Regions from separate parts of the Homo sapiens genome. Here region 1 is linked to region 2. The links come from fine-mapping of genetic effects on gene expression. A gene starts in region 2. The other region holds a variant in brackets. All regions are shown on one strand. Distances are between the middles of the regions.

Region 1 (4,403 bases), 58 kb after region 2:
GAACATCACCAGGGCACTTAAGTCACCAAACAGTCCAAAGTCAATTTTAATGAAAAAATCTTAAAGGCAGCTGAGAAAAAGATCAAATTACATACAAAATGAACCCCATCAGGCTAATAGGACTTCCCAACAATACTTAAATAGGCAGAAGAGATATGTTGTGTCTTTGTTTTTATTTATTTCAAATAATTAAAAAAAATTTTTTTAATAGTGCTGAATACCTAACTCAAGAAGTTAGGAAGACCTCAAATTAATGATCTAATACCACATCTACAGGAACTAGGAAAACAAGAACAAACTAACCTCAAAGCTAGCAGAAGAAAATAAATAACTAAAATCAGAGAGGAACTGAATGAAATTGAGAACCCAAAACCCATTAAAAAATCAATAAAACCAAAAGGATAGAGCGCTAGCTGGATTAACAAGAAAGAAAAAAAAAAAGAGAGAAAGAGAAGATTCAAATAAACACAACCAGAAGCAACAAAGGTGACATTACAACTGATCCCATGGAAATACAAAAGATCCTCAGACACTATTATGAACACCTCTATTCACACAAACTAGGAAATCTAGAGGAAGTACACAAATAAATTCCTGGAAACACACAATCTCCTAAGATTGAATCAAGAAGAAATTGAAATACTGAACAGACCAATATTGTATTCTGAAATTGAATTGGTAATAAAAAAAACTACCAAATCGAAAAGGCCCTGGACCAAATAGATTCATAGCTGAATTCTATCACATATTGAAATAATTAGTTCTAATCCTAATGAAACTATACCAAAAAAATCAAGAAGGAGGGATTCCTTCCTAACTCATTCTGTGGAGCCAGCATCATCACCCTAATATGAAATCTGGCAAAGACACAATGAAGAAAGAAAACTAAAGGCCAATATTCCTGATAAACATGGACACAAAAATCCTCAACAAAATACTAGCGAACTGAATTCAACAGCATGTCAAAAAAGTTAATTCACGATGATTAAGCTGGCTTCTTTCTTATGATGCAAAGTCGGTTCAACATATGCAAATCAATAAATGTGATGAATCACATAAATGGAATTAAAAACACAAACCATATGATCCTCTGAATAGACATGGAAAAGCTTTTGATAAAATCCAATATCTCTTCATTAAAAAAAAACCCTCAAGAAATTAGATGGTGAAGGAACATACCTCAAAATGACAAGATCCATCTGTGATAAATCCACAGCCAACATCATACTGAATGGGCAAAACCTGGAAGCATTCCCTTTGAGGACTAGAACAAGGCAAGGATGCCCACTTTCGTCACTCCGATTCAACATAGTACTGGATGTGCTAGCCAGAGCAATCAGACGAGAAAGAAAGAAAACGCACCCAAGCAGGAAAAGAAAAAGTCAAACAATTTTTCGTAGACTATACCTAGAAAACCGTAGTCTCCACCAAAAGGCTCCTGGAACTAATAAACAACTTCAGTAAAGTTTCAGGATACAAAGTCAATGTACAAAAATTAGCAGTATTTCTAAAAATCAATAATGTTCAAGCTGAGAACCAAATCAAGAATGCAATCTTATTAACAATAGCCATACACAGAAAAAAATACCTAGGAATACATCTAATAAAGGGGATGAAAGATCTCTACAAAGAATACGACAAAGCACTGCTAAAAGACATCATAGATAACACAAACAAATGAAAAAACATTCTATGCTTATGGATTGGAAGAATCAATATTGTTAAAATGCCATACTGCCTAAAGCAATCTACAGATTCAATGCTCTTTCTATAAAACTACCAATGCCATTTTTCACAGAACTAGGAAAAAACTATTGTAAAATTCATAGGGAACCAAGAAAGAGTCCAAATAGCAAAAGCAAGCCTAAGCAAAAAGAACAAAGCTGGAGGCATCATATTACCTGACTTCAAATTATGCTATAAGGCTACAGCTACCAAAACTGCATGATACTGGTACAAAAATAGACACATAGACTAATGGAACAAAATAGAGAACTCAGAAATAAAGCTGTGCAGTTATAGCCATGTCATCTTTGACAAAGTGAACAAAAATAAACAATGGAAAAAGGACTCCCTATTCAATAAGTGGTGCTGGGATAACTGGCTACCGATATGCAGAAAAATGAAACTGGACCCCTACATTTCACCATAAACAAAAATTAACTCGAGATGGATTAAATATTTAAATGTAAGACTTCAAACTCTAAGAATTCTAGAAGAAAACCTAGGAGACACCATTCTGGACATTGGTGTTGGGAAAGAATTTATGAAGAAGTCCTTGAGCAACTGCAACAAAAATGAAAATTGATAAGTGAGACCGAATTAAACTAAAGAACTTCTGCACAGCAAAATAAACTGTCAACAGAGTAAACAGACAACAGGAGAAAATATTCGCAAACTGTGCATCCAACAAAGATCTAATATCCAGAATCTATAAGGAATTTAAACAATTGAGCAAGCAAAAGCAAATAACCCCATTAAAAATGGGCAAAAGACATCAACAGACACTTCTCAAAAGAGGACATA[C/T]AAGTGGCCAACATATGAAACATATGAAGAAATGCTTGTCATCATTAATTATCAGAGAAATGCAAATCAGAACCACCATGAGAACCATCTCACACCAGTCAGAATGGCTATTAATAAAAAGTAGAAAACAAGATGCTGGCGAGGATCTGGAGAAAAGGCAACATTTATACACTATTGGTGGGAATGTAAATTAATTTGGCCACCGTGGAAAGCAGTTTGGAGATTTCTCAAAGAACTTAAAAGAGAACTACCATTTGACTGAGCAATCCCATTACTGGGTATACATCCAAAAGAAAACACACATTTTTCTTTTTTTGTTTTGCCTTTTTTTTTTTTTTTTTTTGAGTCAGAATCCCACTCTGTCACCCAAGCTGGAGTGCAGTGGCATGATCTCGGCTCACTGCAAGCTCCGTCTCCCGGGTTCAAGTGATTCTCCTGTCTCAGCCTCCCAAGTAGCTGGGACTACAGGCGCCTGCCACCACGCCCGGCTAATTTTTTGTATTTTTAGTGGAGACGGGGTTTCACGGTGTTAGCCAGGATGGTCTCAATCTCCTGACCTTGTGATCCACCCACCTTGGCCTCCCAAAGTGCTGGGATTACAGGCGTGAGCCACTGTGCCCGGCCGCCTTTGTTTGTTTTTTTTTAATTATACTTTAAGTTCTGGGATACATGTGCAGAACATGCAGGTTTGCTACATAGGTATACACGTGCCATCGTGGTTTGCTGCACGCATCAACCCGTCATCTACATTAGGTATTTCTCCTAATGCTATCCCTCCCCTAGCCCCCCAACCCCCACGGTGTGTGATATTCCCCTCCCTGTGCCCATGTGTTCTCATTGTTCAACTCCCACTTATGAATGAGAACATGCCGTGTTTGGCTTTCTGTTCCTGAAAACACACATTTTTCTACCAAAAAGACACATATACTTGTGTATTCATTGCAGCACTAGTCACAATAGCAAAGACACAGAATCAACCTAGGTGCCCATTAATAACAGATTGGATAAAGAAAATGTGTTACATATATGCCATGGAATACTATGCAGTCATAAGAAGAATGAAATCATGTCCTTTGCAGTAACATGAATGCAGCTGGAGGCCATTATCTTAAGCAAATTATTAACACAGGAACAGAAAATAAAAAACCTCATGTCCTCACTTACAAGTGAGAGCTAAACATTGAGTGCTCATGGACATAAAGTTGAGAACAATAGAAACTGTGGACTATTAGAATGAGAAGAGAGGGGGAGCCAAGGGTTGAAAAGCTAACTATTGGGTACTATACTCAGTACCTAGGTGATGGAATCATTTATAGCCCAAACTTCAGCATCACACACTATACCCAGGTAACAAACCTGCACATGTACCCCCTGAAATTAAAATAATAGTTGAAAAAAAAAATAAAGCAACCATGAGATACCACTTACCATCTATCAGGTTGGCAAATACTAGAGTAACAATGGCCAATGAAAGAATATGTGCTCTTGCACATATTTATTGCAGCACTATTTACAAGAGCAAAGACTTGGAAACAACCCAAATGCCCATCAATGGTAGACTGAGTAAAGAAAATGTGACACATATACACCATGGAATACTATGCAGCCATGAAAAAGAATGAGATCATATCCTTTATAGGGATGGATGACACTTAGATGTCAAAGAAGGGTAGTTCTAATTCCATCTATTAATTTGATAATATACTGGTACCTATTGACAGCCAAAAGTAGGATAATGCTTAACTCTAGAGGGGATGGGAGTGGAACTTTTATCAGAATGGGGCATGTTGTGGCTTCTGGGGTGCTGACAATATTCTATTTCTTGACTGGGGTGGTTTGTTATTGCTAAAATATATCATGCTTAGCAAACTAACACA
Region 2 (4,403 bases):
AAAATGGGATACTTCAGAGAAAAGCAGCCAAGAGAACTAAAGTCCTATCAGTTAAGGAAGAGTAGAAGAAATCTGGAGTGTTCAGCCTGGAAAAGATTTAGGGGATCGTGGTGGCAGATTTAGAATAGTTGAGCAATGAGACTTGCTCTCTCTCCTTGGGTGGAAACTGGATAAATGGACAGAAGTTACAAAGAAGCAGATTCTGGTTATTAAGGTTCAATGTAAAGAAAAGCTAAATTAGCACTATAATGCAAATAGCTTTACGTATTCCTTCCACAAGGCCACATCAGTTGTATTGTGGGTTGTGTGTGTTCGTGTGTGTGTGTGTATTTAACACTTATTCTAAAAAGCCAATGTATTTAGGGGTTCTGAGGAATTTATAGATCTAGTAAACTGTGGGCCTTTTAATGCATAATTTGTGAACTAATCAATTTTCTCATTTTAATACAACCTCCCTCCCTCCCTCTTTTCCTTCCTTCCTTTCTTCCTTCCTTCCTTCCTCCTTTTCCTCTGTTCCTTTCTTTTCTTTTCTTTTTTTTTGTTATACTTTAAGTTCTAGGGTACATGTGCACAATGTGCAGGTTTGTTACATATGTATACATGTGCCATGTTGGTGTGCTGCACTGGTTAACTTGTCATTTACATTATACTACAGGGCTACAGTAACCAAAACAGCATAGTACTGGCATAAAAACAGACACATAGACTAATGAAACACAATAGAGAACCCAGAAACAAACTCATACATCTACAGTAAACTTGTTTTCAACAAAGGTACCGAGAATATATGTTGGAGAAAAGGCAGTCTCTTCAATAAGTGGGGCTTGGAAAACTGGATATCCATAGGCAGAAGAATGAAACTAGACCCCTATCTCTTGCCATATACAAAAGTCAAATTAAAATTGATTAAAGACTTAAATCTAAGACCACAAGCCATGAAATTACTAAAAGAAAATAGCCTACCTCAGCTTCCCACATGCTAGGATTATAAGCATGAGCCACTGTGCCCAGTGATACAACATTTATGACTGCAAAGTAACTCATCTCCCCTTTGCAGTTAACAGCACTTTGTGGGGAGATAATTTGAGACCATGTTGGTTGTCATCAAACCTTCACTCAGATTCAGCATCATTTGATGCTTTCTTCTTCAATCAACTACTACTATAATAGTTGCCAAATAATGACCTTCCAATTCTACCTTTCCTTCTGCATACAGTAATTAGCATTCTTATGTAAGGAATAATTATTTGTTTGTTTATGTAATTTGAACTCATGAATTCCTAGTTTATTTAATGGGCTATAATCTGCTATTATCATTTGTTTATTTTTTAAAAGTTTTATTTTAAGTCCAGGGGTATAAATGCAGGTTTGTTACATAGGTAAACTTGTGTCATGGGAGTTTGTTGTACAGATTTTGTCACCCAGATCTTAAGCCTAATACCCATTAGTTATTTAATTATTAGTTATTTTTCCTGATTGTCTTCCTTCTCCCACCCTCCAGCCTCTGAAAGGCCCCAGTGTGTGTTGTTCCTCTCTGTGTGTCCATGTGTTCTCATCATTTAGCTCCCACTTATAAATGAGAACAGGCAGTATTTGGTTTTCTGTTCCTGTATTAGTTTGCTAAGGATAGTGGCCTCCAGTTCCATCTGTGTTCTTGCAAAGGACATATCTCTTTCTTTTTTATTACTGCATAGTATTCCATGGTGTATATTGATCACATTTTCTTCATCCAGTCTACTGTTGGTGGACATATAGGTTGATTCCATGTGATATGGTTTGTCTCTGTGCCTCCACCCAAATCTCATCTTATAGCTCCTATAATTCCCATGTATTGTGGGAGGGACCCAGTGGGAGATAATCAAATCATGGGGGTGGGTATTTCCCATACTGTTCTCATGATAGTGATGGGTCTTACGAGATTTGACAGTTTTAAAAACAGGAATTTTCCTGAACAGGGTCATTTTTTTTTTTTTGCCTGCTGCCATCCATGTAAGATGTGATTTGCTGCTCCTTGCCTTCTGCCATAATTGTGAAGCCTCCCCAGCTATGTGGAACTGTAAGTCCAATAAACCTCTTTCTTTTGTAAATTGCCCAGTCTTGTGTATGTCTTTATCAGCAGCAAGAAAATGGACTAATAGAGTAAATTGGTAGCAGTAGAGTGGTGTGCTGCTGAAAAGATACCTGAAAATGTGGAAGTGACTTTGGAACTCGGTAACAGGCAGAGGCTGGAATGGTTTGGAGGGCTCAGAAAAAGACAGGAAAATGTGGGAAGGTTTGGAACTTCTTAGAGACTTGTTGAATGGCTTTGACCAAAAGCCTGATAGCAATATGGACAATAAGGTCTTGGCCGAGGCTGTTTCAGATAGAGATGAGGAACTTGTTGGGAACTGGAACAAAGGTGACTCTTGTTATGTTTTGGCAAAGAGACTGGTGGTATTTTGCCCCTGCCCAAGAAATCTGTGGAACTTTGAACTTGAGAGAGATGATTTAGGGTATCTGACTGAAGAAATTTCTAAGCAGCAAAGCATTCAAGAGGTGACTTGTGTGCTGTTAAAGGCATTCAGTTTTATAAGGGAAGCAGAGCATAAAAATTCGGGAAATTTGCAACCTGATAATTTGATAGAAAAAGAAAACCGGTTTCCTGAGGAGAAATTGAAGCTGGCTGTAGAAATTTGCATAAGTAATGAGGAGCCAAATGTTAATCCCCAAGACAATGGGAAAAATGTCTCCAAGGCATATCAGAGGTCTTCATGGCGGCCCCTCCCATTACAGGCCCAGAGGCCTAGGAGAAAATGCTCTCGTGGGCCAGCCCCATGGTCCCTGTGCTGTGTGCAGTCTAGGGACTTGGTGCCCTGTGTCCCAGCCACTCCAGCCCTGACTAAAAGGGGCCATGGTACAGCTTGGGCTGTTGCTTCAAAGGGTGGAAGCACCAAGCCTTGGTAGCTTCCATGTGGTCTTGAGCCTGTGGGTGCCCAGAAGTCAAGAACTGAGGTTTGAGACCCCCTGCCTAGACTTCAGAAGATGTATGGAAATGGTACCAGCTCTTCTTTTTCTTTCTTCTTCTTCTTCTTCTTTTTTTTTTTTTTTGAGACAGTGTCTCACTTTGTCAACCAGTCTGGTCACAAACTCCTGCCTGGCCCCCCCAAGTAGTTGAGACTATAGGCATACACAACCATGCTCTACTAATTTTTTGTATTATTTGTAGAGATGGGGTTTTGCCATGTTGCCCAGGATGGTCACAAACTCCTGAGCTCAAGTGATCTGTCCACCTTGGTTTCCCAAAATGCTGGGATTACAGGTGTGGGCCACTGTGTCTAGCCTTTGTATCAGCTCTTCTTTGTACATCTGCTAGAATTCAGCTGTGAACTTGTCTGGACCTGGGCTTTTTTTGATTGGTAGGCTATTTATTACCACCTCAATTTCAGAACTTGTTATTGGTCTACTCAGGGATTCAATTTCTTCTTGGTTCAGTCTTGGGAGGGTATGTGTGTCCGGGAATTTATCCCTTTTTTCTAGGAAGGGTGTGTGTGTCCATGAATTTATTCATTTCTTCTATATTTTCAAGTTTATGTGCATAGAGGTGTCCATAATATTCTCTGATGGTTGTTTGTATTTCTGTGAGTTCAGTGGTAATATCCTCTTTGTCATTTCTGACTGTGTTTATTTGAATCTTCTCTCTTTTCTTCTTTATTAGTTTAACTAGTGGTCTATCTATTTTATTAATTTTTTCCAAAAACTAGCTCCTGGATTCATTGATCTTTTGAATAGTTTTTCATGTCTCTATCTCCTTCAGTTCAGCTCTGATTCTGGTTATTGCTTCTCTTCTGCTGGCTTTGGGATTTGCTTGGCCTTGGTTCTCTAGTTCTTTTAGTGGTGATGTTAGGTTGTTAACTTGAGATCTTTCTAACTTTTTGATGTGGGCATTTAGCACTATAAATTTCCCTCTTAATACTGCCTTAGCTGTGTCCCAGATATTCTGGTACATTGTATCTTTGTTCTTGTTAGTTTCAAAGAACTTCTTGATTTCTGCCTTCATTTCATTGTTTACCCAGAAGTCCTTCAGGAGCAGGTTGTTCAATTTCCATGTAGCTGTGTGGTTTTCAGTGAATTAATTTCTTTCTTTCTTTTCTTTTTTTTGAGATGGAGTCTTGCTCTGTCATGCAGCTTAAAGTACAATGGCTTAATCTCAGCTCACTGCAACATCCTCCTCCTGGGTTCAAGCAGTTCTGTCTGCCTCAGCCTCCCAAGCAGCTGGGATTACAGATGCCCACCACTACACCTGGCTATTTTTGTATTTTTAGTAGAGATGGGGTTTTGCCATGTTGGCCAGGCTGGTCTTGAACTTCTGACCTCAGGTGATCTGCCTACCTTGGCCTCCCAAAGTGCTGGAATTATGCTCACGC

Evidence for each region. PIP is the estimated chance that this variant, and not a neighbour inherited with it, causes the effect.
Region 1: its variant is the best candidate, but not a certain one, in a credible set for the expression of LINC00639 in whole blood (TOPMed, PIP 0.57).

The regions. Positions count from the first base shown.
Region 1 is chr14:38,856,757-38,861,159 of GRCh38, reverse strand. All of the region lies in intron 2 of LINC00639 (long intergenic non-protein coding RNA 639), which reads left to right. Among named protein-coding and RNA genes, the nearest start is that of LINC00639, 58 kb to the left of the region's middle. The variant C/T (reference allele first, on the strand shown) is at 2,527.
Region 2 is chr14:38,914,435-38,918,837 of GRCh38, reverse strand. It overlaps LINC00639 (long intergenic non-protein coding RNA 639), which reads left to right and starts at 1,956. Exons shown (of 5, transcript NR_039982.1): 1 at 1,956-2,056. All of the region lies in intron 4 of LOC105370457 (a long non-coding RNA gene), which reads right to left.